4 linked regions of the Homo sapiens genome follow. The protein of the gene in region 3 interacts with the protein of the main gene of each other region in a pairwise test. Each region holds a gene or a part of one and is shown on either strand. Other genes may lie near its edges. The genes, in order: STYX, PPM1F, LMTK2 and TPTE2.

Region 1 (8,975 bases), on a different chromosome or scaffold from region 3:
CCCACCTTGGCCTCACAAGGTGCTGGGATTACAGGCATGAGCCACTATATCCGGCCAAGATGTATCTTGTTGATTGCTCTACATCAGTTTTTTTCTGAGTCACAGTGTGCCCTTACCACTTGCAAATTCAAGCCTTCCCTGATTTCAGGAAAGTTGTCTTCTATTGTGTATTTACCCTTTTGGTTGTTCTGTTTCTTTTTCTTTTTAGTATACCCCTTACCCCGGTATAGTTTATGTTCCCTTTTTTCTTTGTTATTTGCTATTTTCTCTGTAATTATTTGCAGCTTTGTTCTTTTTTTTTTTTCCACTTGATTTTTCTCACGTTTGTTTTCCATGTCCCATGCTGCATTGTTTCATTAAATATTTATTTGGCATTGTTTTAGTTAGGCACTGACAGTAAAGCAGAGAACAAAACAGACAATAATCCTTGACCTCACGAAACTTATTTAGTGGGAGAATCAGACAACAAACAAAATGTAGTAGGCCAGAAGTAATGAATCCAAGAAAAATAAGGCCATGTAAGGAAGGTGGGACGAGAATTGTATTTTTAGAAGGGTGGTCAGAAATGGGCTTACTGAAAAGTGATATTTGAGCAAAGACCTAAAGAGATGCACGTATTTGGGGAAAAGCATTTGAGGTAGAGGAATAAGTGTAAGTGGTTTGAGGTGGGAGCATAGTTCTTAGAAGGATACTCATTTCATCATAGGGCCAGTCCTCTCATGACCTCATCCCAACTTAATCACCTGCCAAAGTCCCCACATTAAGTGTTTGGACTTCAACATATGAATTATGAGGGGAATGCAAACATTCAATCCCATAACTGCCATATTTTCTTTGATTAATTTGTTCATAGTTTTCATCTGCTTCATGGTATAAGTTTTATGGCATTTTCTTTATGACATTTGGTTATACTCTTGCTTTTCTGTTTTTGTTTTGTTTTGTTTTGTTTTTTCTTGCAAAATCTTTGAGTAAGACCTAACTGGTTCCTTCTTGATTATTGGTCATCTTTGAACTGGAGGTATTCGTCTTAGATCAGCTATTTACCCAAGAATAAAATTGTGGGAAAGGGGCCAGAGGAGTGGTTGGGGAAGGCTGACAGCTTGAATTTTCCCAGGTTCCTTTGGTGGCATGAATCAGTGAGTAAGAAGCAGAGCTCCTTATATCACAGGTTTATTTTGTTTAAATTGATAAACACTGATTCATATTAGAATCACCTGGGGAATCCTTACCCATGCCAATGAAATCAAAATCTGTGAGAGTGGGGCCTAGGTATATAGGTTTTAAAGTGCCTCAGGTGATTCTCATGTATATCCAGGCTAGAATTGCTGATTTAGCCTTTACTTTTAGCTATCCAAGATCAACTGATGCTTGGCTACATGCAACCAAATTTCACTTCCGCCTTACCATACTTAAACAGCCTGCTGCTTGCAAAAAATGGCAGGTGTAGGTGTTCACATTTTCCTTAATATGTCCCACCTTCTCCCATAGGCCACTCATATTTCCTGACTTTGTCATACCATGCAAGGGCTTGTTGGTTTTATTTTAGGTCACCTTTTTTAGCGAGCTATGAACTGTACCTACTCTGGCCCACAGAGGAGTTATCTGCTATGCCTAGCTTAGGATGGTTCTATTTTTTTTGAAAATTTTATTGTGAAATTATAATATAGAAAATGCATAAAATGTAAATAAACATCCATGTAACTATTGCCGAAGTATGGAAACAGAATGTTTACCAGGACACCAAAAGCCTTTTTCATGCCGCTTCTCAGGCACAAATCTGTTTCTCCCTCTGTAAAGTAACCACTATCCTGACGTAGCTGGTAATCAATTCCTTTTCCCCTCATTCTTCTCATTTTCAGGGTAATGGATGTTTCCTAGTTTCATCAAATGTTTTCCTTGTTTTCAGAAAAGAGAGAAACAAAAATGCCTTTATTCTTCTATCTATAACTGGAAGCAGAGGACTATTGAGATTGCCAATTTAAGTTTTTGGTGTTTTTTGGGGTTTTTTTAAACAGATGAAGTCAGAGATCATTATAGCTAATGCCATACTGACTGGCAGTTCAGCATGCAGTACCCTAGCACAAACTATTAGCCGGGCTTGATTTATAGTTATCAGTAGTTCTGAATTTATGAGACAGGAATTTTAAACTTCCATTTCTCTTCAAACAATATGGCACTAGATTTTTCAATACAGATGAAGAATACCAACAGTGTATACATTAATCACTATTTTGGGTATCCAAGAATGTAAATATATAATTAAGTTAATTAACTTATTTTTTTTTTAGGAATATGAAGCCATCTACCTAGCAAAATTAACAATACAGATGATGTCACCACTCCAGATAGAAAGGTCATTATCTGTTCATTCTGGTACCACAGGTAAGGATTTTTTTCTTTTTGGAGAAATTTGGGAAGAAAGATAATGAAAGGTGGAGAACTTGCTACAAGTTACACTGAACAATTTAAATTGTTTAGAAAACTTGTTAAACTATTGAGCTAATTCCAGAAGGATTCATTTTATAATGAATAAATGTGTACTATAATAAGCTTAAGTCTTTCAAGTAGTAGTACATCCGTGTTGTAAAGATTAAAATAATACGAATCTGGAGAAGGGGCCCTAAACACGCTTAGGTGATCTTATTAAAAGTAGAGGGCGGTTAATACAGCGTGTAGCATGGCTAATGTGAGCTTCTTTCTCTTGCCATCAATATTTCCATCCTTTCCTCCCTCTGTTGCTATTTCAGAAGTACCCTAAGCCCCTTATTTTCAAAGTTAATCCAAGCATGCTCTTAAAATCTTCCTTTCCCAAGACCTTGCTACCTGTGTTTATCACCTTTGTTTCTCTCCCAACAAAGCACACAAGGCATTTTTACTTTATTTCCAGTTTTTCCTACCCTGCAGTTCACTTCAATCTTTGAACCAACAGTTATATAAGGTAGTAAGAACAGCTTATATACTTAGCACTGACCTGGAAATTGAGGACAGGTGATCTGATCCACAAGTATAGAACTCTTTGCACTCTACTGCACTGCCCATAGTGAGTAATATGACTGTATATTCATCCCCAAGGCTCAACTTCCTAATTGTCATTGACTTTTTCATTTCCTTTGCCACATCTGTCTAATAATTGCTCTCCACATCCTATAGGGTCCGTTTTGTCAGTATTGTTAACATTCCTTCCTTTTTTTAATAGTGACCTTAATCTAGTTCAGGTCCGGATTTGCCTCCTTTCCAAACTCTTGTTATTTGGTCTGTTCTGTACATTGTGGCCAGACTTATTCCCATGAAAGATATTTCTAATATTGATATTTTTCCTTTGCCAAAGCCTCCTTTGGCTTCATTCCTACAAAAGTTTATAGAATGCCATATGCCCTTCTGATTTTTTGGTTTCTTTCTCTCATTGTTCTTCTTTATGTCTGCATTTCAGAAAACAACTGCTGATGGTTTCCTGTGTGTGTCTTCTTTTCCCCACCTAAAATGCATCACATTTAGTCTCCCTATTCTTGGTTCATATGTCATCTCCTCAGGAAGACATGATGATTAATGCACTCTTCCTTTAACCCCTAGTCATTTGGAGTTCCCATAGAAGCACAGCACTTCATCTGAAACTTAATCACAGTATCTGGGTTTAGCCTGAGGGCTAGGATATTTTATCTCATTCAATTGTATTGATACTATATTTTTATCTTTATGAATTTTATAGTGAAACATTCTTCAATTAGAATATGCCCTCTGAATTAACATTATTATTACCATGATATAACAGTCCTGTAGGGCATAAGTTTAAGGTCATGCCATTGTTAGGCAAAAAACACAGCAGACCCTCTGCTGGTTTAACTGTTCCCTAAAGTTTTCCTCCATTGAGAGTCTAATTTCTTGATTATAACTTTTGGGGATACAGAGATAGCTTTGATTCTATGTGGGAGATTTCTGTACTAGCAGATGCTGGTATGAAGAATAGATAAAAGAAAATCTCTTTATATGCTACATGCCTTCCTTTCTCCCAACCTAGACTTCGATAGCTTGAGTGGAAAAATATTTTCAGCTGCTCTTCATAACAGCCTCTGTGAAAGCAAAAAGATTATCTACAAAAAATTATACAAATACAAGATTAATTTCCTAAATTTTATGCCCTAAGTCACATGTTTATGGTGCCTAAAAAACAATTAACTTGATAACTAAACATTTATGTATTATCTCTTGAAAAGGTCTATTTTCACACTATTTCAAAAATTATTTATTTTATATGCAATACCTAAGACATAATACTTGAGAAGGAAAATATATCCTGTCATGAAGATTAAAAAGTTATAATATTTAGGTAATTTATCACAAAGGAATTTACTAAATTTTGCTATATCAGTTGTGGAATTTTCATAGTGTATACATGATCACTTAATAACAAAATTTTACTTGCTGTAACCTTTTAACATGAATTTATTTTAGTGCCCTTTTAATCTTCATGCAATAACTTTTAGGCAGTTTGAAGAGAACACATGAAGAAGAGGATGATTTTGGAACCATGCAAGTGGCGACTGCACAGAATGGCTGACTTGAAGAGCAACATCATAGAGTGTGAATTTCTATTTGGGAAGGAGAAAATACAAGAGAAAATTATAATGTAAAATGGTAAAAACATAAGTAGTTTTTTTTTCAATTACATGTTGCTTCCAGACATACTTCTCTGCAACTTGTTGAGCAACATTTTAAGATGTTGGACTTCTGCAATAGATGACACTGATGGTTTTACTCCTTTTTTTAAAAACACATGCGCGCGCACACACACATGCTTTACAAGTTTTATTATAAACCAAGAATTTTGGACTTGCAAAGAGGTATTATTGCAATAATGCACTTTTCATACTTGAAATTTATTTGTATGATATAAAGTTATTACTTTAAACAAAATGCAAGTATGGGGGGATTGTTTATAAAGTTTGGGTAATTTATAACAAAATTTGCTAAGGTTTGCTAAAAATTCATTTTTCTGTTCTATATATTACATTTTTAACATAATTTTACAGTTCAATTTTATGATGGAGCCTCTTACAGAAACATTAACAAAATGCAGGAATCTGCCACATTTCTTTTTTAGTATAACTTAATAGCTTAATTACCATTTTATTTTTTATACTTCTTCCATTATTAATCTTTAAATCATGATCCTAATTAGCTGTCCTTACTTTAACTTGATCTAATTATTGCTTCCTTTCTTATTACTTTCCTAATTTTTCTATATTTTAAAAACTACAGTTTCCATGATAAAAGGAAAACGTTTTGATTTATAGTACCAAGTGCTTAAACACAAGGATAGTGTTAGATTTTCGAGTGACTTTCCTTTTTGCATTTTTTGGCAGTAAAAGCCAAACGTTGTATTTGTTCTTTTCAGAGTTGTCCAGCCCTTTTTTCCTTTGTCCAAAATGATTCTAAATAGAATCTAATAAACCAATGTAGCATTATTTTTTTCTAAATGAAGCCCCAAAAAAGAAAAGTGCCTTGCATCATTTAAAAAAAATAATTAAATCCTCATGGCCTCTAAATTAGTATGTAGAACACTGAAAAGTTCTTAACATTTTTGTGTAATTTCCTTTCTTTTTAAACCATAAATTAGTTTAAACTGAAAGTACGAGGCTGGAAGAAATATTAGTAAATTATTTGGAATATAGAATGTTTACTCTTTCTTTTTATGTTGTCTTAATGATTCTGTGAGATTGTTCCGGCTCAAACAGAAGCTTTTCTTTGGGGAAGGTGATTTGTGGGAGACTAGTGTATTTTAAATTAGCATTTTAATCCATTCTTGACATTCAGTTAGTCCAGATCTGCCCCATAATTTGCTTTAGTAAAGTCACTTTATGGATTTTTGGCTATGTTTTAGTTTGTGTGTATAAAAGTTCTAAGAAAACATTTTTGCTATTTTAAGTATGTAAGGGAAGAGAGGAGTGTTTTTAACTTTTTATAGTTGATGACTTTAGGGTAGCACAAACAAAACTCCTTTGTATCTAACTTTTCTCAATCCTCTCTTGAGGTGCTTTACTAATGGGAATGATTTCTGTATGTTCCCTTGGTACCAAGAGGTACTATGCAAAGTAACCTATTACACCAAGTTACTTGCTTTGCTTTCCTCTCTATGATGTGATAATACAGTAAAAGCTTTCTTACCCAGCATAGTGGGAGAGTGGAGATTAATTAAAATTGTTAATTAAGAGTTAATTCCTATTGACCCAGGTGATATTTCTCTTCTGATTTCCCTCCCCTTCCCTTCTCTTATCTTACCACTGTGAAAACAGCATATTGTTAATCTCGTTGTCGTCCAGTATTCTGCTTTGTGATTAGGTCTTTTGATGTACAGTGGTCTAGTGGAGTCAAGATTCGCATTGGGTTTTCTAAAATTCCAGTTGATAAAAGTTCCAGATAACACAGCTTTCCTGTATATAGATCACTATTGGGCAGGTCAGCAAAGATCTCTTACAGTGTAATAATAATCTATGATGCTTCATTTAGCAGAAACTCTGCTTAAAAGAATCTTCATAATAGTAAGTTTAGGTTTTAAAAACTTGTTTCATAAATATACATATATCCTCTCTAGTAGTCTGGCCAAAAGAACAGATTTTGTTATTGATAATTTGTAGCTGGTAATTTTCCACATTTTCTATCCACTGTAATTTTTATGTTGTCACTGAAGTGCCTGCCCAGTACTGTATATTACAGTCTCTCACAAACACTGGGAAAAGGGACTGTCATCATCTTGAGTACTCTGTGTGTATATATATATATATAGATAGATAGATTTTTTTTTTTTTTTGAGACAGAGTCTCTAATGTCACCCAGGCTGGAGTACAGTGGCACAATCTTGGCTCACTGCAACCTCCACCTCCTGGGTTCAAGTGATTTTCCTGCCTCAGCCTCCCAAGTAGCTGGGGTTAGAGGCACATGCCACCATGCCTGGCTAATTTTTGTAGTTTTAGTAGAGATGGGGTTTCACCATGTTGGCCAGGCTGGTCTCAAACTCCTGACCTCAAGTGATCCACCCACCTCGGCCTCCCAAAGTGCTGGGATTACAGGCGTGAGCCACTGCGCCTGGCTGAGTACAATATTAATGTAGACAAACCATGAAGTTTATTATTTCATATAAGAACATTACAGGTTTGTTTTTTCTTGCATGTCTGTCCACCTAATGTTTAAGTAGTTCTGGTAGCTCTTCCTATTCTTTATTCTATTTGATTCCATTTCTGTGATTCTTTTATTACCACTGATGTTTTGTGATAGTTAACTATGATAAATTTAACTGATCATGATTTATCTTCTAGAGTATTTAAATAATGTATGAGTGACCACCCAATTCCAACATTAAAAGTGTAATCTGGGCCCATAATTTATAGTGAAATTGTATCAAAACATAGGGAAACTGTATTACTGTCCATTTTGAAAATATGAAACTTGAGTATTGAAAATATTCAAACATGGAATGGCAGTATTCTAATTTCAGTTAGTTGGTTCATGTTAATTTCTTACCTGTTAGATGTTTAAACTGCAGTGACCTTTACTTGTATCTACTCTGTGGTGGAAATGTTAAACCATGATAGCTTTTGCTACCAACTCAACCACTTAACTTTTAGAGCAGTTTTGGGGAGAGTTTATGCTTCATCTGAGTTTAGAAGTAATGTCAGAAAATGTTAAGCATGTCTGTATTAAGAAAATATAAGGTTTCTAATTGTCTTATTAATATGGTAATTCAAGTGAATTAGAAATATTTAACTGCAATCTTGAATTATAAAGTTGAGATATATATATATATGTATCAAGATCTCAACTTGATGTAAAGTAAATGAGCAGTTACCTGGCGGATTTTTTTTTTTTTAAATAACTGATTTAATCCATAATCCCATAACAAACATAGCTTCACCTCAGTATTTTCTTTCTTTCTTTGTTCAACAGTGCTCCGATAAGGGAATGCTAGAAAATAGATGAGAAGTACTGAAAGACCTTTTTTTTTAATTGATTAGAAAAGTAAGTCTCTAGGGTCTTTGAATGCTGGAATTTTTTTTTTTTTTTTTGTCTTTCCCATCTGTGGCAGCTAAAACAAAAATCACTCAAAATATTCAGGTTTACATGTTAGCTCTCTCTCATAGGGAGCTGCCATACCTCACAGTTCAAAGTGTATTCTATAGATCAGTAACATTATACTGACATGTAATTGCAATTTACTATGCAGCAAAAATGATTCAAGAAGAAAAATAACCTACAGTGTCTGTATACCTTTGTATACACAATTGCTTAAGTTACTCTGCTTTTAACATTTGTACTTGGATAAAATGCTTATGTCTGTATAGGAATGTCACAGTGCAAGATGCTGCTAGCCCAGGCACAAAGTATTAAAATTATTTTGTGAAGATTGGTGGTTGTATTAAAACTGCTGTGCCATTATACCTCCAAAATATTGAAAAGCTCATTCATACTGCTGCTTATACCTCAAAACTTCTTTACTTAGATTGTTATCTGCTGGGTAAAAGTAACCCAAATTTACTCTGAGTTAAGAAGAGTGGATGAACATTGAATGTTGAGAAGCACTTAAGAGTATACTCTAAAACACTGTGGTTACACACACACACAAAATTATGGTCTGTAGTCCAGGCAAGCCTCAAATTCCAGCTCAAGTTTATTTTTAAGGATTAGTTGAGCAAGTTTGGAGTTGGAAGTGAGAGAATCGTGTTTAAAGGAAAGGGTAGGTCATCCACAGAACAGCTTTCAGTCATTACAAAAAAAAAATACTTCTTGCTTTTATATTACCATCTTCCCCCATTAGGCCTACCTGCATACTGTGCTTCATCAAATCTAAGATCACCTCACAACTATACCATTATTTTAGGCACCACTAAAAGACAGTGTATTGCTAACAAAACTATGATAAACCATTGATAATATATCCAGATTTCAGAGATGTTACAGTGCATCTTAGTTGATGAAACAAAAAT
Region 2 (8,975 bases), on a different chromosome or scaffold from region 3:
AGATTGAGCGATGAGAGGGAGGGAGGAAGAGAGTGAGAATACACAAGGCGGGAGGCGCAGGGCCTCTTTGTTTCGTAACACCTGAAGCACACGCAGTCACTGCCACTCTTCATCAGAAGCAGCCAGCTCCCACACTCAGCAGTGGGAAGTGAGCTCCACCTCGCAAAAGGGGAAGTCAAAGAATTTGTGGACATGCTTTAAAGCCACTGTCACACGAGACTAACACTTGTAATGAAAAACTGGGGAAGTATTAAGAAAGTGTACTTCAGGAAAAAGCTGTCCGTGGAACTGCCACGTGCAGGCCCACTCTGACACCTTGGTTGTGTGCTGTTCCCGCCTTTTTTTTTTTCTGGCCCTGGTGGTTTTTCATGGACTTGTAGTTAAACTGCATATGTAATTTTCCTTCTTTTTTCACTTAGTATCATGACAGAAGCATTTTACATGCTTATAAACTCTATTAAAATCCATTTTTTAGTTTTCTGTTTTAAGAGACCAGGTCTCCCTCTGTCACCCAGACTGGAATGCAGTGGTGTAATCGGAGATCGCCGTAACCTCGACGTCCTTGGCTCAAGGGATCCTCCTGCCCCAGCCTCCCGAATAGCTGGGAGTAGATATACCACCACACACAGCTAATTTTTTTTGGTTTGGTGTTGTTCATTTGCGACTGAGTTTCGCTCTGTTGTCCAGGCTGGAGTGTAGTGGCTCAATCTTGGCTCACTGCAACCTCTGCCTCCCGGATTCAAGCAATTTTCCTGCCTCAGCCTCCCAAGTAGCTGGGACTACATGTGCATGCCAGCACGCCCAGCTAATTTTTGTATTTTTAGTAGAGACGGGGTTTCACTTTGTTGGTCAGGGTGGTCTCGAACTCCGGACCTCAAGTGATCTGCCTGCCTTTACCTCTCAAAGCGCGGGACTACAGGCATGAGCCATGGCGCCCAGCCTGTTTGTTTTTAAGAGACAAGGTCTCTTTATGTTATCCAGGCTGGTCTTGAACTCCTGACCTCAAGCAGTCCTCCCACCTCAGCCTCTCAAAGTGCTGGGATTACAGGCATGAGCCACTATGCCTGGGCTAGTTTTTTTTAATTAAACTTTTTGTTTTGAGATAATCATAGCTGCACATGCAGTTGTAATAAATAATACAAAGAGATTCCATGTATACTTTACCCAGTTTCCTCCAATGGTAACATTTTGCAAAACTATAATAAAATATCACCACCAGGATCCTAACATGGTCAAAATACAGAGCAGTTCCATCACCAGGATCCCTCCTGTCACCCTTTTAAGGCCACCCTTATACCCCCACCCCTACAGACCCCATCCCTAACCACTGGCAACTACTAATCTTCTCGGCTTCTACCATTTTATTATTTCAAGAACACATATAAATGGAAGCATATGATGTGTAACTTTAGGGGACTGGTTTAATTCTCTGGAGATTAGCCCAGGTTGTTTGATGCATCAGGAGTTCATTCTTTGCCATTCTTGAGTGGTATTCAAAGGTATGGGTCGACCACGGTTTGTTTAACCATTTCCACGTTGAAGGACATCTAGGCTGACTCCAGATTTTGGCTGTTCCAGATAAAGCTGCTATGAACATTTGTGTTCATGTGTTCAAGCTTTTATGTGAACAGCCTTCATTGTTCTGGGATAAGTCCACAGGAGTGCCACGGTGGGGTCGTATGGGAGTTGCATATTTCGTTATGAAAATCATATTTAATAGCAGCTTAATTCTTCATCAAGAGACTAGATCTTTTTTTTTTTTTTTTTTTTTTGAGACAGAGTCTTGCTCTGTCGCCCAGACTGGAGCATAATGGCATGATCTCGGCTCACTGCAACCTCCGCCTCCCAGGTTCAAGCGATTCTCCTGCCTCAGCCTCCCGAGTAGCTGGGATTACAGGCGCCCGCCACCATGCCTGGCTAATTTGTGTATTTTTAGTAGAGACGGGGTTTCACCATGTTGGCTAGGCTGGTCTCGAACTCCTGACCTCGGGTGATCCGCCCACCTCGGCCTCCCAAAGTGCTGGGATTACAGGCGTGAGCCACTGCGCCTGGCCGAGACTAGATCATAATTTAAGTATTATTCCTTTGTCATTGGATATATAGTATTTCTAATTAATGGGCAATTATAAGTGATTCTGTACTTTGTCTTTAAAATTATTTTTGTGTTTCTGATGATTTCTTCAGGGTGGGTTCCCATGAGTAGAGTTGCTCCATGGTGGGATGGGAGACTTCAAGGGGCAAGTTGCCAAACTAGACATTTCTAATTCTGGTAACAGGCTGCCATGTGCGCGTTATTGAGTTGATGTGCTCACAATGCCCCGGGAGGTGATGGGGGCTTTGCAGGCCCCTGTGGGAGCTGTCAGGGAGCCAGCGAGGCCTCAGCTGGCTTGGTTGGCACTTCCCTGACAATCCCTCCATTGTGCCCATCAGTGCTGGATGCCCAAAGCCTGGCACAGAGTTTCTTTAACCGCCTTTGGGAAGTCGCCGGCCAGTGGCAGAAGCAGGTGCCATTGGCTGCCCGGGCCTCACAGCGGCAGTGGCTGGTCTCCATCCACGCCATCCGGAACACTCGCCGCAAGATGGAGGACCGGCACGTGTCCCTCCCTTCCTTCAACCAGCTCTTCGGCTTGTCTGTGAGTGCTCCCGTCCAGACCCTGGGGACAGCTTCGGAGGACCGGGGCGAGGGTGGGGGCCCCCCAGGTACCGAGAAGAGCTGCCCACCAAGGCTGAGACAGGAGAGACACCCGTCAGCCCCTGTACTTGCCCAGCAAGAGACTAAGAAGGGCAACAGTGTGAGTCTGTTATGAGGGAGGCCTGGATGCCACGTTCCCCTGACTCCTGCACCAGGAGCCACCTGGGGCAGCCCCTCATTTTATGCTTGTAGCAACTCATAACAGATGGTGAAACCGAGGCTCCCGCGAGCTGTCCTTTTCCAAACCTACCCCCTCATACGCACATAAGCCGGGCGAAGGCCATACTGATTCTCCCAGACTCTACCCCATCAGTGCCTGGCGCCACGCCCCACTGGGAGCACCCTGGGTCCCGCGGGTCTGTGACTCCCACCACATCCCCACCAGGACCCTGTGAACCGCGCCTACTTTGCTGTGTTTGATGGTCACGGAGGCGTGGATGCTGCGAGGTACGCCGCTGTCCACGTGCACACCAACGCTGCCCGCCAGCCAGAGCTGCCCACAGACCCTGAGGGAGCCCTCAGAGAAGCCTTCCGGCGCACCGACCAGATGTTTCTCAGGAAAGCCAAGCGAGAGGTGAGGACTGGCCGCTGGGCCTCAGGTGCAGTTTGGAGGCCAGTGAGAGTCCCAGCCTCTGCAGCGGGAAAAACGCCAAAGGGGCTGGTGGTGCTGGAAGGTCCTCACTAAACACTGCCGGTGGTCCTGCCATTTTTTCTAAAGGGGCTTGGTTTTCACTTGAACGGAAGCAGCACAAAGCCTGCCCCGACCCAGCATGGTGGGCCTCTCAGCCACACAGACCTGCCTGGCGCAGAGGGTCTGCTGGCCTCGGGGAAGGCAGCTGTGGTCAAGCGTTCCTGGGATTTTGTTTTAATGAGATATGGCAAGGTGACAGACACAGACCAGGACCTTAACAAAGAGTCTACTACTCACAGTTCCTGAGAGGAGGGGCCACGCCTCACAGAGCCATGCATGGAAAGCACTGAGGTAGTCGGGGCGCAGAGAGAAGAGAGGGAAGCTGGGCCAGAGCCGTCTCTGCATCCTCCCCAGGTATTTGCTGTCTCGAGGAATCAGCTGGCCTGGGAAGGGGCAGCCCCTCCAGGACCAGCAAGGCCCCAAGTTGTCAAAGCATCATAAAAGGCGGAATATGTAAAACCTGATTAATCTACTGCCTTCCTCCCCTTCCTCCTCTAGGCAGGGTCTCAGCAGGCTACCGACGTCCTCTGGGAACAATCCTTCCTCGGGAGTTATAGCCATGTGCAGGGATGAGGCATTTGTTTCTGAAAGAAGAAAGAATACAAATGCATCAGGCCCCTCCTCTGTGAACTTAGCCACTCTGAACCTCACCCACAGAATTTCACTAGGTCCTCCTTGTAGCCCTGTGAGGTGAATACTAATATTGTACCCATTTTAGACATTGGGAAACTGAGGCTCAGGTTGCTTAAAAGACCCGCCCCAGTGAGAAGACACCAGGGGAAAGGTGCACTTTTGTCACACGCTCTGAGCACAGACCTTCATGGAAATTAGCAGAGCCAGGCTTTGCATCTCAATAGAAAACCATGCAATCTCTGCAGCTGCAAGGACCCCAGTGAAAAGCAGGCAAGCCTCCACTCCTGGCCTCTCACCTCAGCCCCAGGAAGTGACAAAGGCCTCTGAGCTCAAGGCAGCCTCAGAGTAGAAAAGGGATTCTCTGAAGCAGGCGTAACTGCTTTATTGAGGCTGGGCACAGTGGCTCACGCCTGTAATCCCGGCACTTTGGGAGGCAGAGGCCGGCGGATCACTTCAGGTTAGGAATTCGAGACCAGCCTGGCCAACATGGTGAAACCTCGTCTCTACTAAAAATACAAAAATTGGCCAGGCGCGGTGGCTCATGCCTGTAATCCCAGCACTTTGGGAGGCTGAGGTGGGTGGATCACTTGAGGTCAGGAGTTTGAGACCAGCCTGGCCAACATGGTGAAACCCTGCCTCTACTAAAAATTAAAAAAAAAAATTAGCCAGGTATGGTGGCACGCGCCTATAGTCCCAGCTACTTGGGAGGCTGAGGCATGAGAATCACTTGAGCCCAGGAGATGGAAGTTGCAGTGAGCTGAGACTGTGCCACTGCACTCCAGCCTGGGTGACAGAGCAAGATTTTGCCTCTAAATAAATAAATAGCCAGGCGCAGTGACTCACGCCTGTAATCCTAGCACTTTGGGAGGCCAAGGCAGGCAGATTGCCTGAGCTCAGGAGTTCAAGACCAGCCTGGGAAAGAAACATGGCAAAACCCCGTCTCTACTAAAAACACAAAAAATTAGCCAGGCGTGGTGCTGTACGCCTGTAATCTTAGCTACTTGGGAGGCTGAGGCAGGAGAATCACTTGAACCCGGGAGGCGGAGGTTGCACTGAGCCGAGATTGTGCCACTGCAGCCCAGCCTGAATGACAGAGCAAGACTCTGTCTCTAAATAAATAAATAAATAAATAAATAAACATCTTTATTGAGATACAATTGACAGGTAGTAAGTGGTGCATATTTGAAGTCCACAATTTGGCAAGTTTTGGCTTATACACATATACACCTGTGGATTCCTCACCACAGTAACGGAAGTATTCATCACCCCCGGAAGCTTCATCCTGCCCCGTGTCATCCTCTGCCCTTCCCTACCTCCTCTCAACTCTCATGGGCCCTCTCTCCCTGCAGCGGCTGCAGAGCGGCACCACAGGTGTGTGTGCGCTCATTGCAGGAGCGACCCTGCACGTCGCCTGGCTCGGGGATTCCCAGGTCATTTTGGTACAGCAGGGACAGGTGGTGAAGCTGATGGAGCCACACAGACCAGAACGGCAGGTAAGGGGATCCCTGCGCCCAGGCCCAGGATATTCCTGGCCTCCATCATGCTGGGCCCATAGGGGAACCCCACCCAGCCTGGGAACTTCAGGTAGTAGTAATCCTGGCACCTTTCAAGAGGGAGGGCTCCCTGCCTGATTTGAGTGGCCGGGGGTCCCACGTGAGCCCTTCCTGAGAGCTCTGTGGGTCACAGCTATATGGAGCCCAGAGCTCCGGGGGAGAGCAGAGCCCTCTGCACTGACAGGCATCCCAGTGCAGTCAGTGCAGCCCAGTGCAGACCAGAGCCCATCATACACACGGACAAGGAGGCCACAGGCTGTGGGTGAGGAAGGCCTCAGGGAGGTGATGCTGCCCCGAGGCTGGAGGGAACCTGGCTTGGGGCTGTACTGACTAGAGGCTGCCTGGGACCCTGGCACTCAGGTCATCACCTGGACATGAGGATGACAGTCCCACTCAGACCTCTTCTCAGAAGACTGTCTCATCCATGTGTCTCCTGAGGTTGGATTGCGAGCATTCAGATATCATGGAATGACTGTTTATCCCTCAAACCCCACTTTTCCCACGTGCTGTTCTCCACCAGCTATGTTTGATTAACCATGCACATGGTGGATAATTCTACGTCAGCACATAGGAGCACCCATCCTTTCTTGGGGCTGCGGACATTGCATTCATCATGCAGTCCCTTGTGGGTGAGCATGAAGATCTTTTCAGTCTTTCGGTGCTAAAAACAATGCATCTCTACCTACTTTGTGCAGCATTAATTGCTCAGAGTCAAGTGTACCTATATCTGTAGGACACATCCCCAGAAGTGGGATGGCTAGGTTGGAACTGATGCACGTACAGTCTGGGTAGATTTGCCAAGCTTCCCACCTCAGGCCATGCCAGCCTGGGCTGGCACTACATTCCCAAGAAGGTCCATTTCCCCACAGTCTCACCAGGCTGCAGGATTCTTCCTGTCAGGTAAGAAGCCTGTCTTGGGGCAATTGTTAAGTTTGCTTTTCTGTTACAGAGTGAGTTTGAGCGTGTTTTCAAAAGCTGAAGATCATTTACACAGCCTTTCCTGCAAACACTGTTTTTTTCCTTTGCCTGTTTTTCTTATCAGTTTATAGGTTCCTTGTATATGTGAAGGAGGTTGGTTCCTTGTCTGTGATGATTTGCAAATGTTTTTCCATGCATCTTTTATTTTTGTTTATGGGCTTTTGCCACATGGAGGCTTTGTGTTTTTCTGTAGTTGAGTAGTCTTTTTGTGGCTTCTGGTTTGGAAAGCACATAGAGACACCAGGACTTGATGATTGTAACAGTCAGGGGCAGCTACATTCCTTGGCCTTTCACTGCGGCTCACGGTCTGGTATGGGCCCCCTGTACGTCCTCTCCCCATTGTACAGAGGAGAAAACTGAGGCTCAGTCACTTGCCCAGAGCACACCGCCAAAGTCACAGATAGTCTCTGCCACTCCCCTGCCTCCACCACCGTGGGGGAATTTGGCACCTGCTCCCTAGTGGGCTCTCCTCCCCAGGATATGCAGTCAGATGAAATGTGGCCAAGTCAGGATTCGTGCTGGGCCCACTCCCACCTGCTGCCTGCACACCTACAGGCTCAGCATTCAGCACCCCATTAAAGCCCAGTGGGGGCTCTGTTCAAACACTGCCTGAGTCCTGCAGTATGGCGTCGTGGCAGAGCATGGACAGATGGCCTTGCCTGGTCCCGGCTCCACCGCTTCCAAGTCCATCACACAGGGGTCCCTGGAGGTTTGGGGTAAGGATTGAGTGTCCCAGTGCATGTGGAGCACAGAGATCAGAGCTTGCACAAGAGAAGCACACACAGGTGTCTGTGTTCTTGGCTGCAGCCCGCATGGGCCAAGGAGTTCAGATCCAGTGCCCCCCACCTCCCCTTTCCTGCCGCCATGCTCTGTAGGCTTGGCCCCTCCTGCTGTGATCCTGATCACAGCCTTCCACCCTAGAGAATTAATCACAGATCCAGGCCAAGGTTCTCCCACAAAAACAAGCATCATGTCGGTTACAAGAGCAAGAAACTGGCCTCAACTTGGCGAGCTTCAACGGGGGTCCAGCAGCGGCCCAGAGCAGCTTCCAGGAGTACGTGGGGGGAGTGCGTGGTGCTCTGCCTTGTTCTGCGGCTGTCTGAACAGTCTCCTGCCTCTGCACTCAGTTCAGCCTCCAAACACTGAGTGCCCACTCTGCACAAGATACTTTGTTGAGGCAGTGAGATAACACAGGACCCACTTCCTGCCTCTAAGTCTAATGGGGGAGCAGGAGGAGGGCAAGGACCTGGCAGGATGAGGCAGAGAGATGAATGGAATGGAGCCGCATCTCAGGCAGTTGCAATTCCTGCAGGCCAGGGGAGAGACCAGGAGGAAAGGGCAGGTTATGCCAGAATCAGGGCCAGGTGTGGAGGTGTGCCCCAAGTGATCCTCCCACCTCTCAAGCCTCAGGAGACAGGAGGATGGCTTGAGCCCTAGAGGTTGAGGCTGCAGTGAGCTATGTTCATGACACTGCACTCCAGCCTTGGCAACAGAGTGAGACCCTGTCTTCAAAAAACAAAAACAAGCCCCAGAATCAGTGGGTAGAAGACTCGGGGCAGGGGAGAAGACCACCCACCTGCTGCTCCTTCAGCTGGAAAAGCTGGACTGCCCCAGGCTGGGAGGAACTCTGTAAGGACTCACTAGAAGCTTCTGAAGTGATCAGGCCACTGGAGGACAAGTTGAGGGCTGGGTCACAAAAGTGAGTTCAGGAGGGCAGTGAGAGTCACTCAAGGTCACAGGTCACGCTGGCACGCCTGGCAGGCAGCCTGGGAGAGATAGGAGTCCCGGCTCTGCAGGTGGAGACATCGCAGAGGGCCTTGGGCATCCAGGAGGATGGCAGTGCCATAGGCGACGCTGCTGCGGCCTGGCCGTGTGGAGCACTGCACTCCTAGGAAGCAGGAAATGGCTGTTCACAGGAACCCACAGGCCACCGGCTCCAGCTTTGACCTGGGAAGCTGTTTCAGGCAGGTGGAGAGGATGAGGTTTGAGGAGCAGAGGGAAGAGCTGCTGAGGGGGTGGGCGCTGGGCAGTCGGGAGGCGAAGGCAGGAGATGGCTTGAGCCCTAGAGGTCGAGGCTGCAGTGAGCTATGTTCATGACACTGCACTCCAGCCTTGGCAACAAAGCAAGACCCTGTCTCCAAAAAAAAAAAAAAAAAAAAAAAAAAAACAAAACAAAAAACAGAATCAAGAATCAGTGACTAGGAGACTCAGGGGGAATGGGACAAGACCCCTTAGCCTGGGGATATGTTAGTCCCGGACCAGACTGAGCCTGGCCAGTGTGTGACGGAGGTGGGAGCCACTGGAGGGGAGGAGGACCCAGGTTCAGGGCCAGGGTTAGAGGGGCGAGCCCGGGGAGCCGGCGCAGCCTGTCCAGCACAGGGGGTGCAGAATGGCAGGAGAGGGGATCACAGGCTGCAGGGGAGCAGCA
Region 3 (8,975 bases):
ACCACCACACACAGCTAATTTTTGTATTTTTTGTAGAGATGGGGTTTCACCATGTTGGCCAGGCTGGTCTCGAACTCCTGAGCTCAAGCAATCCGCCCGCCTCGGTCTTCGAAAGTGTTGGGATTACAGGCGTGAGCCACCGCTCCTGGCCACGTTGTTTTGGTTAATGTTTGCGTGGTGTATCTTTTGCATCCTTTTACTTTTAATCTACCTGTATCATTATATTTGACATGAGTTTCTTGCAGATCTTATAGTTAGATGGGGTTTTTAAAACTCTGTTCTGAAAAATCTGCCTTTTAATGGTATGTTTAGATCATTTACCTTTAATAAAATTATTGATATTTTGGATTTACGTATACCATTTTATTTGTTCTATTTTTATTTCTATTCTTCCTCTTTTTAATAAATTGAACATTTTTAGTATTACATTTTTCTTTTTCTTTTTTTTTACACTGTTCTCTTTGCGTAGTTTTTGTAGTGGTTGTTCTGGGGGTTACAATGTATGTATTAAACTTCTCACAATCTACTTAGAATCTGTATTTGCATATTTCAGATGGAATGTGGAAACCCTACTGTCACTTAGGCCTTTTGCCCTCCGTCCCCTTCTTGACATGCTCTTCTATGTTGCATACATGTACACTGATAACTCCTCAGACAGTGCAACACATTTGACTTTCTGTCATCAAACACATTCTAAGAAACTCAAGAGGAAATGAATAGTATTATACAGTTGGCCCTGGAGCAACATGGGTTTGAACTGTGTGAGTGTACTTATAACATGGCTTCTTTTCAACCCAAAACAGATCGAAAGCACAGTATTCTCGGGATGTAGAACCTGTGTATAGATACGGAGGGCTGACTTTTTGTATATGTGGGTTCCGCAAGGCTAACCACAGGACTTAGTATGCACAGGTGTGGTTATGCACGGGTGGTCTTGTCACTGATCTCTGTTCAGATCGTTTCTGGAGTTGTCCCTTGGTTTCCAAGAAGTGGTGGTTCCATAATTTGGATACCATAATTAGAGGCTGCCCAAGTGCTTTATATGAAATGGCATCATATTTGCATATAACCTACACACATCCTCCTGCAGACTTTCAGTCATCTCTAGATTACTTATAATGCCTCATACACTGTAAATGCTATGAAAATAGTTGTTATACTGTATTATTTATTTTGTTGTTGTTGTTGTTGTTGTTATACTGTTATTTCTTATTTGTGGTTGTTTCTGAATGTTTTCTGTCCTGGTTGGTTGACTCTGAGGATGTGGAACTCTCTGATCTGGAGGGCCTCCTGTCCTTCTGTTCTTTTTCATTATTGATGTTCTAGGTTTCCTTCTGGAACCCTTTCCCTTCTAATTAAAGAAATTTAACTAGCTTTTCTTTTCTCTCTTTTTTTTAAAAACCCATTTTTTTGCAGGATTCCTTTTATTTTTAAATAAATTCTCTTAGTTTTTTTTTCCATCTAAGACTATTTCACACTCATTCCTGAAGCCTGTTTTCTCTGAGTGTAGAATTCTGTGTTGATAATTGTTTTCTTTCAGCATTTTAAAAATGTATCCCTTCCTTCCACCCTCCACGGTCTCTCATGAGAAATTTGCAGTCACTCAGATCATTCTTCTCCTAGAAGTACAAGTGGAGCGTCCCTTATCTGAAATGCTTAGGACCAGAAGCATTTTAAATTTCTGATTTTTTCAGATTTTGGAATATTTGCATTATACTCACCAGTTCAGCATCCCAAATCTGAAAATTTGAAATCCCAAGTGCTCCAGTGAACACTTTGGGCGTCATGTCAGCGCTCAAAAGGTTTTGGATTTTGGAGCATTTTGGATTTTTGGTTTTCCGATTTGGGATGCTCAAGCTGTAATACATGTTTTATCCCTGGCTGCTTTCAAATCTTTGTCTTTAGCTTTCAGCAGTTTGATTATGGTGCATCTGAGGGTGGATTTCTTCGTGTGTGTGTTTTGTTTTGTTTTGTTTTGTTTTGTTTGAGACAGAGTCTTGCTCTGTCACTAGCTGGAGTACAGTGGCACGATCATAGGTCACTGCACCCTTGAACTCCTGGGCTCCAGTGATCCTCCCTCCTCAGCCTCCTGAGTAGCTGGGGCTACAGGCGTGCACCACCACGCCTAGCTAATTTTTAAATTGTTTGTAGAGACAGCATCTCACTGTGTTGCCCAGGCTGGTTTTGAACTCCTGGCCTCAAGGGATCCTCCTGCTTCAGCCACCCAAAGTGCTGGGATCACAGTTGTGAGCCACCCCACCTGGCCCAATTTCTTTGTATTTATCCCGTTTTTGTTTTGCTAAACTTAAATCTGTAGTTTTGTATCTTTCACCAAATTTAAGAAGTTTTCAGGCATTCTTTTCTTCTAGTACTTTTTCTGCCCCACGCCCTGTCTCCTCTCTTCCTGGGACTCCAGGGTTAGACCCTGTGTATTCTCTCATAGGTTCTGAGGCTCTGGTCCTTTCTTCCTCCAGGTTTTTTTTTTCTTGCTCTTGTTTGGATTGGGTGATTTCTGTTGCTCTGTCTTCAAGGTCCCTGATGATTTCCTTCGTCATCTCCATTATGCTGTTGAGCCCATCCATTGAATTGCTAGATTTTGGTTATTATACTTTTCTTTTCTGAGTTTTGCTTTTTGTCATTCTTCTTATCATCTGTTCCTTTGCTAAGATTTTCCCTATTTCTGTTCATGGTAAGAGTGTTTCCCCTTAGTTGTAGGAGCATTTTTATAATAGTCCTTTTTCAGATAATTCCAACATCTGTGGTACGGTGACACTGGCACCTGTTGATTGTCTTTTCCCAGGTAAATTGAGGTGTTCCTGGTTTTTGTATGTGAAGTAATTTTAGCTTTTGGATCCTCCTATCATGTTAGGCAGTCTGTGCCATGTGTAAATGCTGTGAATCATGTTGATACTTTTACCTTAGCAGGCCTTGACCCGGTGGGTGCAGGCCACAAGCTCCAAGCAGCCTTCTGTGGGTTGTGGTTTCAGTGTCAGCTCCCAGTTCCCCTTTCAAAGCCTTCGCTGTGCTGTTTGAACCTGCCCCACGTGTGTGCCCCGCACCCCACCCCGGTCTCCCCTGAGGTTCATTTTCAAAGCTTGGGTGTGTTCAGAGTCAGATCTACCACACACAGCCCAGGAGCCCCCCAGCAACTTCATCGGGTCACCTTTTTGAGCTCCTCCCTCTTCTGTGATGTCCCTGATACTTGCAGTTCTTTGGGCCTCTGCTTTCTGGTCCCCTAGCTAGAAAGTTGAGGCTTTAGTTACACGATGTGCCATACTTCCTGCAATCGCACGCGCATCTGGAGCCAAGCAGTGGGAGGACAGAAGGGAAAAAAACTCAGCGAGGGTCCCCTCCCGCTCGTGATCACAGTCCTCCAGTGGAGAGGAGGCTTCATGGCCCTCAGGATTATAGGCAGCTGTTGCCCCAGGATTGCTTGAGACTGGAGAGCAAGAGAACAGAGAAAAGAAGAAAGCTGGAATTCCCCCTTCTCTTTCTGAGCATCAGAAGACCCCCTTCCTGCTCCGAAGCCAGAACCAAGGGCTTCTCCTGGAGCACTGTGTCCAGGGCAGTGCCCACTTTGGATTCCGGGCTGACCTGAGTCCAGGCGGGGGATTGTGGAGGAGAAGCCGACACACTTGTTGCTGGTGGGTGGCACCTTGAGCACTGCCGCTCGTGCCCGCCTGCCTGCTGCTCTGCGCTTCTCTGCAGCCTCAGAGGGCTGCTTCATGCCTCTGCCGAGGTCAGAGCTGCAGGCAGAGGGAGAGACAGGGCCTAGTGTCTGTCCGTCCTCCCAGGCCTGGAGCCGCCCTTGTCTTGAGACGCTTACTTCTCAGTCGATGAGTCTGATGCGCCTGCCAGTGGGGAAGCGGTCACACGGGGGGTTCCCGTGAGCAGGCCTTTGCTGACAGGAGTTTCTGTTTGACTTTTCAGGAGACCCCAACCAAAGAGCTGGGGCCCTGTGGAGGAGAGGCGTGCGGCCCGGACCTGAGCGGCCCAGCCCCAGCCTCAGGCTCTCCCTACCTGAGCAGGTGCATCAACTCCGAAAGCTCCACCGACGAAGAAGGTATTTCACGTCATTGTCTAGTTTTAAAGGAAACTGAAAAATTGAGTAATGTAAAGGTTTTTTGAGGGTAACTTCCCATGTTGCTTTAATGACGCCCCCTGACATGGGCACAGAACTGCCATCTGCCAGCCGGGCCGGGCTGTGTCTTCCGACCTGCAGGGCGCACCTGCCCAGAGGCTCCCCCTCTCCCTCATCACGCAGTGATAAAAAGGGTGGGGTTTTATTTTTTATTTCTAGGTGGTGGCTTTGAGTGGGATGATGACTTCTCCCCAGATCCTTTTATGTCAAAGACAACAAGTAACCTGCTCAGCTCCAAGCCTTCTCTCCAAACATCCAAGTACTTTTCTCCGCCGCCACCGGCCCGGAGCACGGAGCAGAGCTGGCCGCACTCGGCGCCTTACTCCCGGTTCTCCATCTCTCCCGCCAACATTGCCAGCTTTTCCCTCACACACCTGACCGACTCGGACATCGAGCAGGGCGGTGAGAGGCGCTGCGTGCTGGGGATTGGGAGTGCAGGGTCGGGGGTGGGGCGCTGCAGCTGGGAGATGGTGGTTTTGCAGGCCTGATAATCTCATGTCTTCTTCACATTTGCTGAGTAGATTACAAACTTGTTTTTATAAAACTCCCATCATCAGCTGGGTGCAGTGACTCCTGCCTGTAATCCCAGCTACTCAGGAGGCTGAGGTGGGAGGATCAGTTGAGCCTGGGAGTGTGAGACCAGCCTGGGCAACATAGTGAGACCCCATCTCTAAAAAAAATAAAAACTAAAAAATTAGCTGGATGTGGTGGTGTGCACCTGCACTTCAGCTACTCAGGAGGCTGAGGTGGGAGGAATGCTTGAGCCCAGGAGTTCAAGGCTACAGTGACCTATGATTGTGCCACTGCCCTCCAGCATGGGTGACAGAGCAAGACCCTGCCTCTAAAATAAATAAATAAAACTGCCAGCATCCTGAGTGTGCTCTCGGGGCCATGCCCCCTGCCTGTTGTGGTCACTCTCAGGCTCGTTACCGGCCACCCTGTGGGGCCAGGCTGAGGCAGAGGGGCTCTGGGTCCCAGGAACGCCCAGGCTGCGCGCCATCTCCTCTTTTTCTCCTGTGGCTGCATAGTCCCTCCTCCGCACTCTGTCTCCTCCTTTCCCAGAGAGAACCTGCTCTTCAGCAGGCTCGTAAGAGCACTTGACCCCTGGACTTGGGACCAGCCCACATGCCCTCTGGTGCTGCCCCTGGAATGTTGGTTTTGCTGCTGAGTCTTGGTCCTGGTGTGGCTCCCGAGGGCGGGGTGGGGTGAATGGGCAGGGGCCATTTGAAGTCGAGGTATCTGAACATAGGGAGCCTTCTTTCCCCGTCACTAGATTGAAAGATAAAGGTTAATAGGCTCATTTTTTGATTGGAAGTTTACAGATCAAATAATAAATATGGAATACAAAGAGGCTTTATTTCCCTCGGCGCTAGGCTTCATTTGTGCCGATTAGATAACACCTGCTATCTGCCAGTCTGTCGGGGCAGATGTGTGGATCCCAGCTGACTTCTTCTGCACCCTGACCCTTAGCGCCCAGCGGGCATTTGAGCCTAGCAGATGTGGGAGAGTCAGGCAGGGGCTGCTTCCGAAGGAAAGGACAGGAAGGGCGGCTCAGGCGGTGCTGGGCTCAAAACACCCGCTTCCGTTCCTGTGGTGCAGCGCACATGCCATCCACGCCATGCCTGTCTGATCATTTTAAAAACCCAGCTTTGTCGTCTCGCTTCCTCTCTCCTCAACAGGAAGCAGCGAAGACGGAGAAAAGGACTAGGTGGCTGCCAACGCGCACGCTCGGGTCCGAGGCTGCTCCCCTGGAGCGGCGCCCCTGCGCCCTCAGCCCGAGCAGCGACATCCACTCGCCATTTGCTGACATGAGATTGGGAGGAAGAATCCAGAGGTGAAGAGGGAGACGGCTCTTAGCTGCGTTCAAGGCGGGGCCCTCGGGAGCCCAGGTGCAGAGCGAGGCCGTGTCCAGGAGCCGGCGTCCCTCAGTGCCCCGTGCACCCGCGGCCGCGGCCTCCCAGGCAGTGCTCATGCGCTGGCCGTCGGGGGAGGCAGGGGCACAGCCTCCATGTGCGCGCGCGTGTGGAGCTGTGTGCACCGCATGTGTGCTTTCCACAGGGGCGTCTCTGCGTCCACGCCTGCACATCCCGGCGCACGTGTGGGCACCACAGAGGACACGTGAGGGGAATGGTCACCAGTGAGCCATATTTATTATTTCTAGAGAAATCACGAACTGCTTTCTGTAATTGCACTGTGGATAAATGTTCCGAGAGTCTCCATTGTTGTACAGGATCTTCAGTTATTCGAGGGGAATGAGGCAGGTCAAGCCGATGCTAGCCACTAGTTTGATTTTTTTTCTGTTTTATAGTTTGCGCTGCATGGTACTTGTGAAGCTTAAATATTTTGAGTGTTCTACTGTGTCTAGGATTGTTGGGATTGTACATATGGTACTCTTTCATAAATGATAAATGATTCTGAATGTTAGTGTTTTATGTTCATATAGGAAATATTTTCATTGAGTCCAAAATACCACTGTTTTGTTGATGGACTTGAATGCATTTTTGTCTCTTCTTGATGAAGCGGCTTTGCCGCAGCAAATGAGGCTTCTCTCTGAGGAGCTGAGAGGTCTTGCAGCCTCTCCTTGTCATTCTCCCACCCCACATCCCATTTTTTAAAGCCCTTTTGGTAAAAACCAACAGGTTGTGGCCGCAGACCTCAGATGGACCCGGCCCATCCCTGGGGACGTGCTGGCGTGGCAGGTCCAGAGAGCTGCACCCTGCACGGGGCACCGCACCGCTTCCCTCCGCGCAGCTCTTCTGCCTGGTTTTCGGAGGCCAGGCTGCTGGGAAGCTTCCGTGTTCCTGTCAGTCCTTCCTTCAAGAAGCCGGGGAACTCAGGCAGACTCATCTCCGCAGAGCATACCAGCCGTGGGGGACCGTTCGACTTGATGATGTGTGCACACTTCAGGTGGTGGGGACTTGAGCTTTAAAAAAACCTCCACAGCCGAATCTTCTCCTCCGAGCCACTCCACGTCACGTCCAGCTGGGCCTGGCCAGTCTGTGGTTATCCATGTGGGATGAGATAACACCACATCCTGCAGCTGTGAAGGGGGATGGACAAGGGACGACGGCCGACGGCAGAGCATCAGCAGCCGACACATAGTTCGGGTCGGGGCCTTGGGTGGTCCTGCATGGCCCGGGACTCATCTCACGGACCCTCCGTTCTGCATTAAGCCCCAGGTTCTCTTCTGGCTTTGAAAGGGCCCGAGTGCTCCCAGTGTAGCTTCGTCACATCGTCACGAGCCCCTGTGGTCATGGGCGACCTCACACCTCCCTCCCTGAGTTCTGCTCTGACATAAGGAAGTCCTCGGTGGCTGGTGCAGCGCGGCTGTGCTGTGCTGGGGAGGCAGCCGTTCCTTCGGGGGTCCTTGGGCCTGCAGTCCCCTCATACTCACCCTTCACCCAACATATTTTCCGGTGCTGATATGTTTCCAGACTCCAGCGCAACCTGGGGTGCTCTCCAGACCCGTGCAGGGGCCGCCTGGGGTACACGGAAGGAAGTTGAGTCCTAGTGCAAAATGCAGGCGGACGTTGCCAGAGAGTGCGCAGCAAATGACCTTCATTGCCAGTTCCACCCTACTCCTCTCATTTTTTATACTAAGCAATAACTTTCCAAAGCAAGAAGTTCAGGATGGAGAGAGTCCCCTCCTGTGTAGGCATGGGGTGGATGCGGTGCCCACCTGGGCTATGTGGGGAGCACCACTGTCTCGGGATGCGCGAATTTTTTTTTTTTTTTTAATTAACAGGGCATTAGAAGATGATTTTGCCAAAATTGTCATGACTCTGAATTCTTGCTGTGGGGACTTCCTGAGTTTTCTCAGTTTTTACATCTAAGATTAGTCTTGGCTGAAGAGAAATGAGACGTGATTATACTACTTTTTCAATTGCAGGTTTAAGGAGTTCAGATTTAATGACCAAAGTCATACAGATCATGGAATCTGTCGTCGTCTTATACAGTGTCAGCCTCGAGTACATTTATTAACCTTTTGGGGCTGTCAGTTTTCCACTAGGATTAAGATTTTGGCCGGGCGCGGTGGCTCACGCCTGCAATCCCAACACATTGGGGGGTCGAGGCGGACGGATCACTTTGAGCCCAGGAGTTCAAGACCAGCCTGGGCAACATGGCGAAACCTCGTCTCTACTAAAAATACAAAATATATATATATATATATATACTAGCTGGGGCACATAGTGGTGTGCACCTGTAGTCCCAGCTGCTTGGGAGGCTGAGGTGGGAGGATGGCTAGAGCCCAGGAGATGGGTGTTGCAGTGAGCTGAGACCATGCCACTGTACTCTAGCCTGGGTAACAGCCAGACCCTGTCTCAAAAAAAAAAACAATTTTTTTCATAACATAATTCCCATTTTTATTTATTTTGAGTCACTCATAATTAATTGCCAAAAAAGCATTTTATACATTGAGTTGGGGGGTAGTGGATCTTAGTGTGGTGTTGCATGGAGGGGCGAGATTTTATATTTATAATCAACACGTGGGTTAACATGTTTTTTTGAAATCCAAGCAATACACAGGAAATTTAAGTAGAATAAAAATTGCAGCCCATTTTTGAAATGTCAGCATGTGCTGTGTTCAGTTCAGGTTTTTGTTGTTTGTTTTGTTATTTTTTAACTAATAAGTTGGTTATCAGTGGTGGGTTTTCAAAATGTACTTGTTCTAATAAGTTGTACAATGAACTAAATCAGTGGCATTCTCTAGATAATGTGGGGGAAGGTTAGAATATTTTCTGGCCTTCTATGGGGTAGCAACCCAGAATCAATCTGAATTAGTCCTGTTTTGGTGGAGTTTGTACATTTTAAATCCTATAACAAAAATAATCTA
Region 4 (3,156 bases), on a different chromosome or scaffold from region 3:
TACCAAAGATTACTTATCTTCATATTTACCACAGTCTTCTTACCCCAACCCCCATGTCTGTGTGTAATTAAAGGAAGCTTGTCAAGTAAGCTACCTATTTAATGCTCGGAATGAAAGAGAGTGTGTGTTGGGAGTTGGGGAACTGCTTATGTGAAACATTTCTCTCTTCTGGATTTAAAACTTAGTCTTGGTTGCCAATCTGTTAACAGACTGTTTGTAAATGAAGGGGAAGAAAAATATATAAATTAGCTTTCTAATAAATCTGAAATTACAAATGTGAACCAAAGCAGGGAATAAATACTTGACCAAAAATATGTAAGTAAGTGGGTGTTGGGGAATCACAATTTTTAAATATCTCAAGTTTTTGCCATGAAAGTTCTATTTCAAAGTTCTTCAAAATGATGCCTGATGTTCCTGCATACTGTGTTCCAAATTTATGTAAATACAAGATGGAAAGTGTGTGAAGTATGTGCCTTCAAAAAAGAAGAAAAACACTGACATTTTATCTATATATATTTAATAGATTTATGAAGAACATATATAAACATATATAAATATAGATGCATCATCAAGGAAGACTTAGGACACATGAACATGTGGCAGGGGTTGGAAAGAACATAATTCTTTCCCAGAAGGGGAAGGGGGAGCTATACTTAGTCGGATCCAGCTACAACATCATTGGAAGTCATTTCTCGCCAAAAAGTATCTCCACAGCAAATTCTGGTGGATAAATTTTCCATGCTTTTTGTTTATGTGGATTATCCAATTCATTTCTTGGTAGACAAAGCCTAAGAATAGAAAAAAAAAATTACATTTTATATTGGGGCTCACCAAAAAGCCACGCAGTTGGGTACCCACGTTAGAGCTGGAAGAAACAAAAAAAAACCTCACCATGAATAGAACCCCAGACCCTTTTTTGCATTTCAGTTGGCTCCTTCCACCTTTTTAGTGAGACTTAAAAATACTTTAATCTTCAGCAACACATCAGTAACACATGCTGACTCTCTTAGCATTGCTTTATATGGAATTAATGACATCCAAGTTTAATAAAATATCTAAATTTCTCTCTGTGACAGAAATCAGTCAGGATAGACATGAATGAAAACCCAGGAATAAAATACTATATCTCTTTTAATTTATGTGTGAAGTTGCAATTTTTTGAATTTTTACAATCAGACCTTGGAAATGACCTTGAGCAGTAGGCTATAACTCCCATATGCTTAGCGTTCCAATAATGGAACACTAGGCATAAATTGGTTAACCCATTTATGCCTGGTGTTCTAAATGATAGAAGTTAGCATTTTTGGCTAAACAACAATCTCATAACTAACAAAAACAGCTTTACCAAGTAGTATGTAAATTTAAATGTTACAGAAATCTTTAGAAATTTATATAAAAGTAAGAATAAAAGTGATCTAGCTTATCACTTCTCCAAAATGAACGCAGTGTTTTAAAGGAAAAAAACGGTATCCTTTAGCAAGAACCACTTTTGAGGAGCAGCATCAAATGAAGCTCCACCCAGGTCTCACTTTTTGAGGGACTTTGCTCATGTTAGAAGAAAAAGCTTATTGTTTGTATGCATCTAAAAAAAATACTTGTAAAAAATTTCCATCAAATCCAAAGTTGACTCTATCAAAATCCATTAAATGTTTTGCATTGCAAGTGTGTAGACCAGAGGTTTAATTTCCTGTTGCCTTGCTGGACTTAAGGAGTTATTCGATCCAGTTCACGTTTGAAGAAAAGATTAGGACTGGATGTAACAATAACTATCAATTCATGCCACATATAATCATAGCCACTTCTTCAACTCTGACCTAAATCATTTAAAAAATATTTTGTCCTTTTGTATTGAAGAGTATGGTTGATACAAAAAAAAATCTCAATTTTTCACCATCACAAAACAAATGCTACTTATAGTGGAGAACTTCTAGACTGAGAAATGTGGTTCCAAATATGGCAGGTTTTTTTGGAACAATAATCTCCAAACCCAATTAGTAATTTTTCAGAAAGTTTTCCCAATTCAGTTATTAGAAAGCCACATTTGAATGGCTATTTAAATAGACTATTACTTAATGATATTTCTTAGCTGTATTCCTTAATACTGTGTCTTGTAACTTCTCCCAGATATAAGTGTGTCCGTCAGCTTTTCAGCTAGCTGAAGCCTCCCTAGGTCCTGCCTTACTTTAGCACAAAAGTTGATGGTGGTTCGTCATTGGTAAATCAGCACCTACTGACAGGGACCTGACATACTGAAGGTGCTGAGCAGACTCATATTGAACTTCTCTGGGAGGAATTTACTACCAAACTTAAGATCTGATGATAATACTTTTGAACTCATAACACAGTCCTATGGCATGGACCCTGAGGATACTGCAACAGTGGGTCTCAAGAACAAATGTATTTTTAAAATAACCAAAGTAAGAGGAGTAAGGCAAGGAAAAATGGTGGCTCAGGGATTTTTTGCTTTCTATAAATTAAGTTTATGACAACCAGCAAAAGACTTGCCATTACACCTTATTTATAGACATTGAAGATTAGGCTGTTTCTATGGGTTTCTATTATATTCATACCTGTTATTTTGAATAAAAGACGTGTTGAACCAGAAGAAAAATGGACAATTGTCATAGTATTTAGGAAGATTCTAAAAAGAAAAAAAATTTCAAAGTAAAACTGACACCAGGAACTAATCATTCCAAAGAAATTAAAGTTCCTTTCTTTATTCCTTTATATATTTATCAAACAATTATAACCATTAAATAGGTAGCACTCTGCAATCTATAACAATACACTCAAGACACAAAGGAGGAGGCTTTAAGAAAATGCTATTGCATTCTCTTGCTGTTTCTATCAAAATTTTCAAGGAATAGTGTTTTTCCCATGATAGGTCTTTAATTTAAATGCTGCTATTTGAATCTGGTTTAGATAGTGCCAAACAGATGCTACTAAGGACCTATGCCTATATATACCCAACTACATTGTAGTGAATTCTTATAATTTTTTTGTTGCCTCAGCATCCCTTTTAATTATAAATTGTATTTTCTGATCTCAGAAGCGGGGTTCAGTCACCCTCAGCAGTTTCCAGTTCACCTCCTCCCAGTTTCTCCATGTGACTGATCCTGATATCTGCCTTATACAACCTTCTCCTGATGACCACTT

The links.
Region 1: the proteins of LMTK2 (region 3) and STYX interact in a two-hybrid assay, tested with the Homo sapiens proteins (one study listed by BioGRID and IntAct).
Region 2: the proteins of LMTK2 (region 3) and PPM1F interact in a two-hybrid assay, tested with the Homo sapiens proteins (one study listed by BioGRID and IntAct).
Region 4: the proteins of LMTK2 (region 3) and TPTE2 interact in a two-hybrid assay, tested with the Homo sapiens proteins (one study listed by BioGRID and IntAct).

The regions. Positions count from the first base shown.
Region 1 is NC_000014.9:52,766,552-52,775,526, forward strand, and holds the end of STYX (serine/threonine/tyrosine-interacting protein), read left to right. Parts: intron 1-2,288; coding exon 2,289-2,382; intron 2,383-4,481; coding exon 4,482-4,555; 3' UTR 4,556-8,438; downstream 8,439-8,975. UniProt on the Homo sapiens protein: Catalytically inactive phosphatase. Acts as a nuclear anchor for MAPK1/MAPK3 (ERK1/ERK2). Modulates cell-fate decisions and cell migration by spatiotemporal regulation of MAPK1/MAPK3 (ERK1/ERK2).
Region 2 is NC_000022.11:21,927,682-21,936,656, reverse strand, and holds part of PPM1F (protein phosphatase 1F), read left to right. Parts: intron 1-2,430; coding exon 2,431-2,633; intron 2,634-3,077; coding exon 3,078-3,266; intron 3,267-5,365; coding exon 5,366-5,509; intron 5,510-8,975. UniProt on the Homo sapiens protein: Dephosphorylates and concomitantly deactivates CaM-kinase II activated upon autophosphorylation, and CaM-kinases IV and I activated upon phosphorylation by CaM-kinase kinase. Promotes apoptosis.
Region 3 is NC_000007.14:98,199,644-98,208,618, forward strand, and holds part of LMTK2 (serine/threonine-protein kinase LMTK2 precursor), read left to right. Parts: intron 1-3,930; coding exon 3,931-4,063; intron 4,064-4,300; coding exon 4,301-4,543; intron 4,544-5,820; coding exon 5,821-5,849; 3' UTR 5,850-8,975. UniProt on the Homo sapiens protein: Phosphorylates PPP1C, phosphorylase b and CFTR.
Region 4 is NC_000013.11:19,422,377-19,425,532, forward strand, and holds the end of TPTE2 (phosphatidylinositol 3,4,5-trisphosphate 3-phosphatase TPTE2), read right to left. Parts: intron 2,642-3,156; coding exon 2,571-2,641; intron 789-2,570; coding exon 686-788; 3' UTR 501-685; downstream 1-500. UniProt on the Homo sapiens protein: Acts as a lipid phosphatase, removing the phosphate in the D3 position of the inositol ring from phosphatidylinositol 3,4,5-trisphosphate.